3 linked regions of the Homo sapiens genome follow. The protein of the gene in region 2 purifies or fractionates together with the protein of the main gene of each other region. This does not show direct contact. Each region holds a gene or a part of one and is shown on either strand. Other genes may lie near its edges.

Region 1 (3,655 bases), on a different chromosome or scaffold from region 2:
CATCGAGCACAAGCCTTAAAGTATATTTTATATTAAAAAGTAAATTGGTAACTGTTTGAAAAAACAATTCGCCCAATTGATATTGTTCACTATTTAATAAAATTCTGTTTGACAAACCTCTCTCTCTGTTGTCACGACGGTCTCGCTCTCCATGTCTTCTCTCAAAGGAAGAATCCCTTGCTTGATCTCTGTTGTCTCTTTCAGGATATCTATCTCTTTCAGGATAGCTACTTCGAGTTTCCCAGCTGTCATGATAGTTGCTATTACTACTGTGACTATCAATTTGAGAACCTCTTGAGCCTCGACTTCCTAAACAAAGGATAGACACACAAATGTTTACCACATACACTTTATTCAACAAATTTCATCAGTCATAATCTTTCCTCCTAAACATCACTAATATATATATTTAATATTCCAAAGTGTGGTAATCACTCCTGAAAAGAGTATCAAGCAATGAATCAGAACAACCAAGGTGTCCAATGACTGACCTGAGTAGACGAAGTCCCAGTTTTCCCTACCTATATAAAAGTCATATGATAAAATCATAAAATAATAAGATTCATTAAAATTAACCTGTCCCCCCAAAAAAAACAAAAAATAAAAACTATTTCTTCATATTTAATTCACAGATATATAAAAATAATGAAAGAAAAAAATGGGTACGTATTATTGCTTAAATACAGTTTACAGTGAAAACATTCCAACATAGAACACCAAGGTTAATGACAACATTAAACTGTATGTGAAAATTTTCATTAACAGATGTGGGAAACAAATGTTCACAGTGGCTTTGTTGATAACAGCCAAAACCTGCAAAGTACACTAATGTCTTTCAATGGATGAACAGTTAAACAAACTGTGGCACATGCATGCCATGGAATACTATTCGGCAATAAAAATGAATGACCGATATATGCAACAACTTGGATGAACCCCAAGAAAAAATTATGCTGAGTGAAAAAGCCAATCTCAACAGGATACATATAGCATTATTCCATTTACGAGACAATTACAAAACAAGGGACACATAAGAGGTTGCCAGGGGTTGGGGCCAGGGGCCAGGGGAGGGTTGTGGCTATAAAGGGGTAATAAAAAGGAATCTTAGGATGTTATAGATGAGTATCTTGACTATGGAAATGGGCTACACATATGATAAAACTACAAAAAGCTACATACAGACATACACCCAAGTGCATGTATACTGGTGAAATGTGAATAAACTCTATGGATTGTACCAATGTCAATTGTTTGGTTTTGATACTATGCTATAGATAAGATGTTAGATGTTAACACTGGAGAAGTTGGGGTAAGGATAAACAAAGTTTCCCTGTACATTTATTTGCAATCTCCTGTGAATTCCTAATTACTTCAAAACAAAATGAAATTTAAAAAAAAGCTTTTTTTGAGCAGTGAGGGTTAGGAGTAGAGAAACAGTACTGGGGCTGTGATAATTTAGGAATATCTGGCAAAAACAAAGACAGAAACTCTGAGGGCCCTGCCCTCAACCTCATAGAATTACCATGGATAAATCTTTGACAAAGATGAGTTCACTCCAAACTTAAAAGAACATATGATGATTTCCAATTTCATCCATGTCCCTACAAAGGACATGAACTCATCATTTTTTATGGCTGCATAGTATTCCATGGTGTATATGTACCACATTTTCTTAATCCAGTCTATCACTGTTGGACATTTGGGTTGGTTCCAAGTCTTTGCTATTGTGAATAGTGCCGCAATAAACATACGTGTGCATGTGTCTTTATAGCAGCATGATTTATAGTCCTTTGGGTATATACCCAGTAATGGGATGGCTGGGTCAAATGGTATTTCTAGTTCTAGATCCCTGAGGAATTGCCACACTGACTTCCACAAGGGTTGAACTAGTTTACAGTCCCACCAACAGTGTAAAAGTGTTCCTATTTCTCCACATCCTCTCCAGCACCTGTTGTTTCCTGACTTTTTAATGATTGCCATTCTGACTGGTGTGAGATGGCATCTCATTGTGGTTTTGATTTGCATTTCTCTGATGGCCAGTGATGCATCATTCTCAGTAAACTATCGCAAGAACAAAAAATCAAACACTGCATATTCTCACTCATAGGTGGGAATTGAACAATGAGAACACATGGACACAGGAAGGGGAACATCACACTCTGGGGACTGTTGTGGGGTGGAGGGAGGGGGGAGGGATAGCATTAGGAGATATACCTAATGCTAAATGACGAGTTAATGGGTGCAGCACACCAGCATGACACATGTATACATATGTAACTAACCTGCACATTGTGCACATGTACCCTAAAACTTAAAGTATAATAATAATAAAATAATAAATAAATAAATAAACAAATAAATAAAAAAGAAAAAAAAGAACATATGACAAACTAACCCACCCAAAGACAGAATCAAAAGGCACTTCCCCAAGATTTAAAAAACAAACAAAAACACAAAGAATACAAATGTAACAGGCTTTTGAGACCTAAAAGAATTACAGCATGATTCTACGGGTATTTTAATAATCAAAATAGCTGTGAAAAATATTTTAATAATTAAAGACCAGGAAGAAAAAATTTAAAACATTTTTACAGACTACAAAAAGGCTACATATAACATCTAGGAAAGAATGGATTAACCATCAGATTAGATGCAGCTAAGAAAAAATTGGTAAACTAGAAGGTAAGCCTGAGAATATGACCTAGAGGCGAAACAGATAAAGAGATGAAAAATTTGAAAGTTAAGAATGAAAGAAGATACAATGAGGAGATTTAATCTGTCTAAAACTATATGTTGTTTAGAGTTACATTTAAAAAAAAATTAAGCCTGAAAGGATGGAAAAAGATATATCAAACAAATACTAACCAAAAGACAGCTGCCAGCAAAACAATCTTCAAGAAAAATACAGGCTGAATGCCCTTTATCTGAAATGCTTGGGACCACAGGTGTTTTGGATTTTGGAATATTTGCATTATATTGGTTCAGCATCCCTAATCTGAAAAATTGGAAATCCAAAATGCTCCAATAAGCATTTCCTCTGAATGTTATGTCAGCTCTCAAAAAGTCTGGATTTTATCAGTTGCTAGTGGCTATAGAAAAAACAAAAAACAAAAACAAAAAAAATTACATTAAAAAGTTTTAGATTTTGGAGCATTTCAGATTAGGGATGCTCAACCTGAACCTGGCATAAACAGTCATTCTATAATGAATAAAGAAAGAAATAACTCAATTTACGTGTACCTAATAGCAAAGCTTCAAATATTCAAATAAAAAAATGATCAAACTATAAGTAGAAATCAACAAATCTACAAATTCCACAATCACAGTGGAAGACTGAACTCACCTCTCTGTAATGACAGAACAAACAGACTAAGAAAAATTACATGTAGATTTGAAAGTGTAGTTAAAACAAACTTTATCTTAGAGAAACATTTTGCATTCAACCATTACAAATGCAACTCCTTTGAAAGCATATGCAGAACACTTATAAAAACAGACCACTGAGCCACAAAATAAGAGTTAACAAATACATATCCCAAAGAACTGACTTTCAACAGAGTATTTTCTGACAACTAAAATGGGGGGAGAGAACTTAATCCTTAACACAATAAAAAGTATCTGCAAAAAATCTACAAACACCATACTTAGTAATAAA
Region 2 (3,129 bases):
ATTTGCTTTGAGTGGCCATCCTGCCCTATCTCCTGGGGGTGTGGAGCACTCAGTTGATTGGATGAATGTGGCACCAGCATCTAGGAAAGTCCCTCATTACTGTTCAGAGGGAAATGTCTGCAGTGGAGGGAGACTGTCCTCAAGGGAAGGGGCTACCCTGAGAGACCTTTTTCTAGTTCTGATCTGTTTTTGCCTTCTTGCCTGAATGTGCCCAGTTATAACTGAGACCAAGCACCAGTGTAACAGAGGCCCATGCATCCAGGCCCGAGCAATCTACAGTGACTGCAAATTCCCTTATTTTGTGTAAGCCCCAGAAACACTGGACTGAGGGAGGGCAACAGAAAATATCCCATTATCAACACAAGCTTCTCCACACTTTCCCCAGCGTCTGGCTCTCAGGTGTGCAGAACAAGTCCAGGGACTCTGGGACTTAGCTGACACCTCTACTCACTCCTGGCTGAGCTGCTGAACTTGTTGGGGGCCAGCTCCACAGGGCGACTAGACAGGCCTCATCCCATGAGGTCCTGAGAGGCCTGGGGGCTAGACTTGGGCCAAGGTGTTGCTGCCGTGAGAAGCACCCACCCCTAGCTCTTGAATTGCTTTCCCCCGAGGTACAGAAGGAGAAGCTGGATAGAGGAATTCACAACTCTGGGTAGAATAAAAGTGAACATTTAATGCCACCATAGTTTGATTTTTTTTTAAACACCAGATTCTTTTTTGACAACATTTTACACCTCATATGCCACAAAAAGTCAGAGATCGTAGCCAGCAAACAATGTCTTTACACTGGAAAATGCCACACAGCTTAATGGATTCATGTCACCAGTTTGTGAGAACTATAACTCTTTTTTTCTGGACTGTTCTCCAGGGAGCCTGCTCATATTTATCATAATCAAGCCAACACCTAACGTTTATATAGCTTGCAAAGGCCCATGCACAAAACTAGCCTGCCAAGGGGCTGCTGGGACCTGCCCAAGTACAGAAGAGTTGAATTTCTGACTTTAACAAATGAGTTTTATTGAAGCATTTTAACAGCAAACACTTGTGAACTAATAATGTTTTGAATGGCCCCAGTCTTCCATCTGGTTAAACAGTGGATTTCAGACAGTAACATTAAGCACTACCATTGAATTGTAAAACAAGATTTTATGAACTTATTTAGGAATTCACTGTTTCTGGCACAATAAATGCACCTGGGCAGACCTTGTCTCCACTTTTCAAATGGGCCCATTTCTACAGATAAGCATATTTATATACACATACATACATTACTAATCATGGAATTAGAGATCCAGAGCTTGAAGGAACCACAAAGATCATCTAGCACAATGTCTTCATTTTATAGGTTAGAAAACTGAGTTCTGGAGGAGTTAGGTAATATATCACGGACGGGACGACTGGCAAAGCTGGAATTAGAACTCAGGTTTTCTGTCCTATGGAATATATCACGGACAGGATGACTGGCAAAGCTGGAATTAGAACTCAGGTTTTCTGTCCTATGGAATATATCACGGACGGGACGACTGGCAAAGCTGGAATTAGAACTCAGGTTTTCTGTCCTATGGCCTTTCACCATGTCAGGTACCTCCTGTACACACACATCCGTGTATGTACACACACCTTAGAGGAATGGTATGTGTTCATGTCTACACATACCTGGTGCAATATGATCTGATGGGAAGAATCCAATAAGCTGGACTCAAGTCCCTGTTTTGCTATAAAACCACTCTGTGAACTCGGGCCAGTCAATGACTAGACTTCAGTTTCTTCATCTGTAAATGATTACCCCCAGCTCCTAGACAGACCTTTAATTTCTTCAAAGCACTTCCCATCACTTATACCACTTTCTCTTGATGCTCTCCCAGAAGGGCAGCTGTTCTGACCCCCAGTCTTCCACTCGGGAACCTGAGGCCCAGCAAAGCGAAGAGGCTCGCCCAAGGTTGCACAGCTAGTAACAACCAGGCCTGGCGGCCCATGTCCTTGCTCCTAGCTCAAGGCCTAGCCCCTCCCTGCCTCTCGGGACCCAGTGAGGGGACAAAATGCCTTAAGATTGTAAGACTCACTAAAGTACTTTGGTTTTTCCAGAGGAAAAAAACAGGTACTATATATATCCAAGCTAAGGAACTCCAATTGCTTTCCCAAACCCTCTTCAGTAGCACTAGGGGTTGGATGGGAGTCTTAGGGAAATGTAGGGAACTAATACTATCAGCACTTTCCTCAGGAATTGAATGTTGAACCATTAGGAAGAGGCTGAGTCCTCTTCCGTGCAAGCCGGTGGGCGTGGATTTCCAAGCCCATTCTCATCAAATTCAAAACGAAGGGATCTTTCCCATTTGGCTGCTTACTACAGAAACAGCTTAGATTTTGAACTAAGCCCTGTGCATTGAGGATTGGACCCTAATCCCTATTCTCTTGCTTTATCTGTCCTCTCCCCATCCCCCAGCCCATGTTTCCACTAACAGACTTTGCTTGAGTGAGAAAAACATGGAAAAAAATAGCCACAGACAGATCCAGCAAATCTCCACCTCGATGCACGGCACGTGGATAGCATTTCCAACCGTGATGCATAATAAGTAAATGAGAGAACACGAGCAATGCTGTAAAGCAACATCCTGAGTTCACAAATAAATTAGAACTTCTTCATAAATCAAATATTACAATGTGGGCTGTTAGCAGGATAGGGAATGAAAGAAGGAACCTTTTTTAGTGTTGAAGGTAATTTCTAGGTACGCATGGAATAGATGTGTGAGTGTGGTATTTCAGTACTCGCCTCCACACGTGTGGACCTTGGGAACAACTATGCTTAGAGATTAAGGTTTGTATGCAATGAAGGCTTGATACTGCCCCAAGCCGCACTGTGTCCAGTGTTATGACATTGCTGCAGGTTCTGGGTAGGGCCACCCAAAAGCAGAATGTGTTTGTTTAGGGAGGGATAAATTAGTTTCCAGGAATTTTCAGAAAAAATTTTTTTGAGAAGATGAGCTTAAATGACAGTATCTTCTCCCGGATTAGAATTACGCTTGCATTATGATGGAAATAATGAACAGGTTGTAATTTTAAAATGTGTCATTTTGTCAGGAAGATTACTAAGTGATGCACTTTATAAGCTGTTACCCACCAATGTTGACA
Region 3 (3,655 bases), on a different chromosome or scaffold from region 2:
ACTAGGGTTCATTATATAATGGCATCAGTTTCTGTTTCTTTCATTAAAAACTTTTTTTCTTGGCTGGACGCGGTGGCTCACGCCTGTAATCCCAGCATTTTGGGAGGCTGAGGCGGGCGGATCATCTGAGGTCAGGAGTTCGAGACCAGCCCGGCCAACATGGTGAAACCACGTCTCTACTGAAAATACAAAAAATTAGCCGGGTGTGGTGGCGGATGCCTGTAATCCCAGCTACTTGGGAGGCTGAGGCTGGAGAATCGCTTGAACCCAGGAGGCGGAGGCTGCAATTAGCCGAGATCACACCCCTGCACTCCAGCTTAGACAACAAGAGCGAAACTCCAGCTCAAAAAAAAAAAAAGAATTTTTCTTTTTTTTTTCGAGATGGTGTCTCCCTCTGTCGCACAGGCTGGAGTGCAGTGGTGCTATCGCAGCTCACTGCAACCTCTACCTCCTGAGTTCAAGTGATTCTCCAGCCTCAGCCTCCCAAGTAGCTGGGACTACAGGCGCCTGGAATCACACCTAGCTAATTTTTGTATTTTTAGGAGAGACGGGGTTTCACCATGTTGGCCAGGTTGGTCTTGCACTCCCGACCTCAGGTGATCCACCTGCCTTGGCCTCCCAAAGTGTTTGGATTACAGGCGTGAGCCTTTTTTCTTTTTGAGACGGAGTCTCGCTCTGTCACCAGGCAGGCTGGAGTGCAGTGGTGCGATCTCAGCTCACTGCAACCTCTGCCTCCTGGGTTCAAGCGGTTCTCCTGCCTCAAGCCTCCCGAGTAGCTGGGATTACAGGCGTGCACCACCACGCCCAGCTAATTTTGTACTTTTAGTAGAGACGGGGTTTCTCCATGTTGGTCAGGCTGGTCTTGAACTCCCAACCTCCCAAAGTGCTGGGATTACAGGCATAAGCCACCATGCCCAGCCCGTTGTATTCTTTGGGAGGCAGGCAGATCACCTGAGGTCGGGAGTTCGAGACCAGCCTGGCCAACATGGTGAAACCCTGTCTCTACTAAAAATACAAAAATTAGCCGGGCGTGGTGGTACATGCCTGTAACCCCAGCTACTCGGGAGGCTGAGGCAAGAGAATTGCTTGAACCCAGTAGGTGGAGGTTGCAGTGAGCCGAAATCACGCCACTGCACTCCAGCCTAGGGGACAAGAGCAAGACCTTGTTTCAAAAAAAAAAAATTACCCGAGCATAGTAGTGCACACCTACAGCCCCAGCTACTCAGGGGGCTGAGGCAGGAGGATCACTTGAGCCTGGGAGGTGGATGCCACCACGAGCTGAGATGGCAACCCTGCACTCCAGCCTGGGTGACAGAATCAGACCCTGTCTCAACAACAACAACAAAAAAAAAGATGGCGGGGGGGAGTAATACATCTGAATTTAAGTTTCTACAGGGTTCTGACTTTTAAAAACATGTTCGTGATTTACATACTCAAATAAGTAAAGCCGGGTGCGGTGGCTCACGCCTGTAATCGCAGCACTTTGGGAGACCGAGGTGGGTGGATCACGAGGTCAGCAGTTCGAGACCAGCCTGGCCAAGATGGTGAAACCCCATCTCTACTAAAAAAAAAATACAAAAATTAGACAGGCGCAGTGGCGGGCACCTGTAATCCCAGCTACTCGGGAACCTGAGGCAGGAGACTCGCTGGAACCCAGGAGGCAGAGGTCACAGTGAGCCGAGATCGCACCACTACACTCCAGCCTGGGCAACAGAGCGAGACTCCACCTCAATAAAACAACAACAACAAAAAAAACAAAAAAAAAAGAAATAAGTAAATAAACAAAAAGATGGGGGAGACACCCACATGGAATACTAGCCAGAAGAAATGCACCTAACTGTATTACAAGTGAGTAACACAGGGGAAGCTAACCTACGTAACTTTGGAAAACAGTGAGTGACTAGGTGCTCTAAGGAGAAAGACAAAAAGGACTGTGCACCATTACCGTGTGAACAGGCTCTAGGCAGTAGATGTTTTCACAATGGTATAGGTTAACACACCTAAAGCTATTTTCTGTGGACTCTAGGGCAAAGCAAATAATTGGAATACACGGTGGCTGATGAGAGCCAGGACTCTCAATGACAGAAAGGAAAGTGGGAGTGAGAACAGGGTTTCAGCAAACGATTCCTGTAAAGGGCGAGAGAGTAAGCATCTCAGACTCTATGAGCCAAAGGCCACGTGAGTGCTCAGAACAGCCACAGGCCGCGTGTGGCGGCTCACACCTGTCACCCCAGCGCTTGGGGAGGCCGAGGCGGGAAGATCACTTGAGCCCAGGAGTTCAAGACCAGCCTGGGTAACACAGCGACACCCTTTCTACAAAAACTTTAAAAATTATCTGATGGCTGGGCGCGGTGACTCATGCCTGTAATCCCAGCACTTTGGGAGGCCGAGGCAGGTGGATCATGAGGTCAGGAGATTGAGACTATCCTGGCAAACACGGTGAAACCCTGTCTCTACTAAAAATACTAAAAAATTAGCCGGCCATGGTGGCGGGCGCCTGTAGTCCCAGCTACTCAGGAGGCTGAGGCAGGAGAATGGTGTGAACCCAGGGGGCAGAACTTGCAGTGAGCAGAGATGGCGGCACTGCACTCCAGCCTGGGCGACAGAGCGAGACTCCGTCTCAAAAAAAAAAAATTAGCTGAGTGTGGTGACGTGCACCTGTGGTTCCAACTACTTGGGGGGCTGAGGAAGGAGGATAAATTAAGCCTAAGAGTTTGAGGATGCAGTGAGCCCTGTTTGTGCCACTGCACTCCAACCTGGGCAACAGAGCAAGACCCCGTCTCCAAAAAAAAAAAAAAAAAGAACAGCCACAGATATACATAAACAAAAGGGTATGGTTGTATTCCAATAAAACTTTACTAAGGAAAATAGGTGGGGGCCAGTTTGGACCACAGTTTACTGACTCTTGCATTAGAATAAAGCCAGGGAGCCGGACACGGTGGCTCATGCTGGTAATCCCAGCACTTTGGGAGGCCAAGGTGCATGGATCATTTGAGGTCAGGTGTTTGAGACCAGCCTGGCCAACATGATGAAACCAGGTGTCTACTAAAAACACAAAAATTAGCCAGGCATGGTGGCATGCACCTGTCATCCCAGCTACTCAGCAGGCTAGGTGGGAGAATCGCTTGAACTGGGCAGGCAGAGGTTGCAGTGAGTCTCCAGCCTGGACAACAGAGTGAGACTCCACCTAAAAAAAAAAGAATAAACCCGCGGACGTCGCATTGAAATTGGAAGTATCAGTATGATCACAAGGTCTTTGACAGATCGATGGGTAAAGATGTGAGAAACAGCTAGGTCTGAACACTGGGTTATAATGTTCCATTAACAATTTTTTTTTTTTTGAGATGGAGTCTTGCTCTGTCGCCCAGGCTGGAGTGCAGTGGCACGATCTCTGCTCACCGCAACCTCCACCTCCTGGGTTCAAGCAATTCTGCTGCCTCAGCCTCCCGAGTAGCTGGGATTACAGGTACCTGCCACCACGCCCCGCTATTTTTTTGTATTTTTAGTGGAGACTGCCTCACCATGTTGGCCAGGCTGATCTTGAACTCCTGACCTTGTGATCCACCTGCCTCGGCCTCCCAAAGTGCTGGGATTACAGGCATGAGCCACCGCAACCGGCCAAGTACACAACTTTTGAGACTGGCTTTTCCTATTC

What was found.
Region 1: the proteins of KIF26B (region 2) and ZC3H13 purify together in Homo sapiens (affinity purification with mass spectrometry; one large-scale study listed by BioGRID and IntAct). This does not show direct contact.
Region 3: the proteins of KIF26B (region 2) and ANKLE2 purify together in Homo sapiens (affinity purification with mass spectrometry; one large-scale study listed by BioGRID and IntAct). This does not show direct contact.

The regions. Positions count from the first base shown.
Region 1 is NC_000013.11:45,979,696-45,983,350, forward strand, and holds part of ZC3H13 (zinc finger CCCH domain-containing protein 13), read right to left. Parts: intron 310-3,655; coding exon 118-309; intron 1-117. UniProt on the Homo sapiens protein: Associated component of the WMM complex, a complex that mediates N6-methyladenosine (m6A) methylation of RNAs, a modification that plays a role in the efficiency of mRNA splicing and RNA processing.
Region 2 is NC_000001.11:245,706,957-245,710,085, reverse strand, and holds the end of KIF26B (kinesin-like protein KIF26B), read right to left. Parts: 3' UTR 654-3,129; downstream 1-653. UniProt on the Homo sapiens protein: Essential for embryonic kidney development. Plays an important role in the compact adhesion between mesenchymal cells adjacent to the ureteric buds, possibly by interacting with MYH10.
Region 3 is NC_000012.12:132,755,201-132,758,855, forward strand, and holds part of ANKLE2 (ankyrin repeat and LEM domain-containing protein 2), read right to left. Parts: intron 1-3,655. UniProt on the Homo sapiens protein: Involved in mitotic nuclear envelope reassembly by promoting dephosphorylation of BAF/BANF1 during mitotic exit.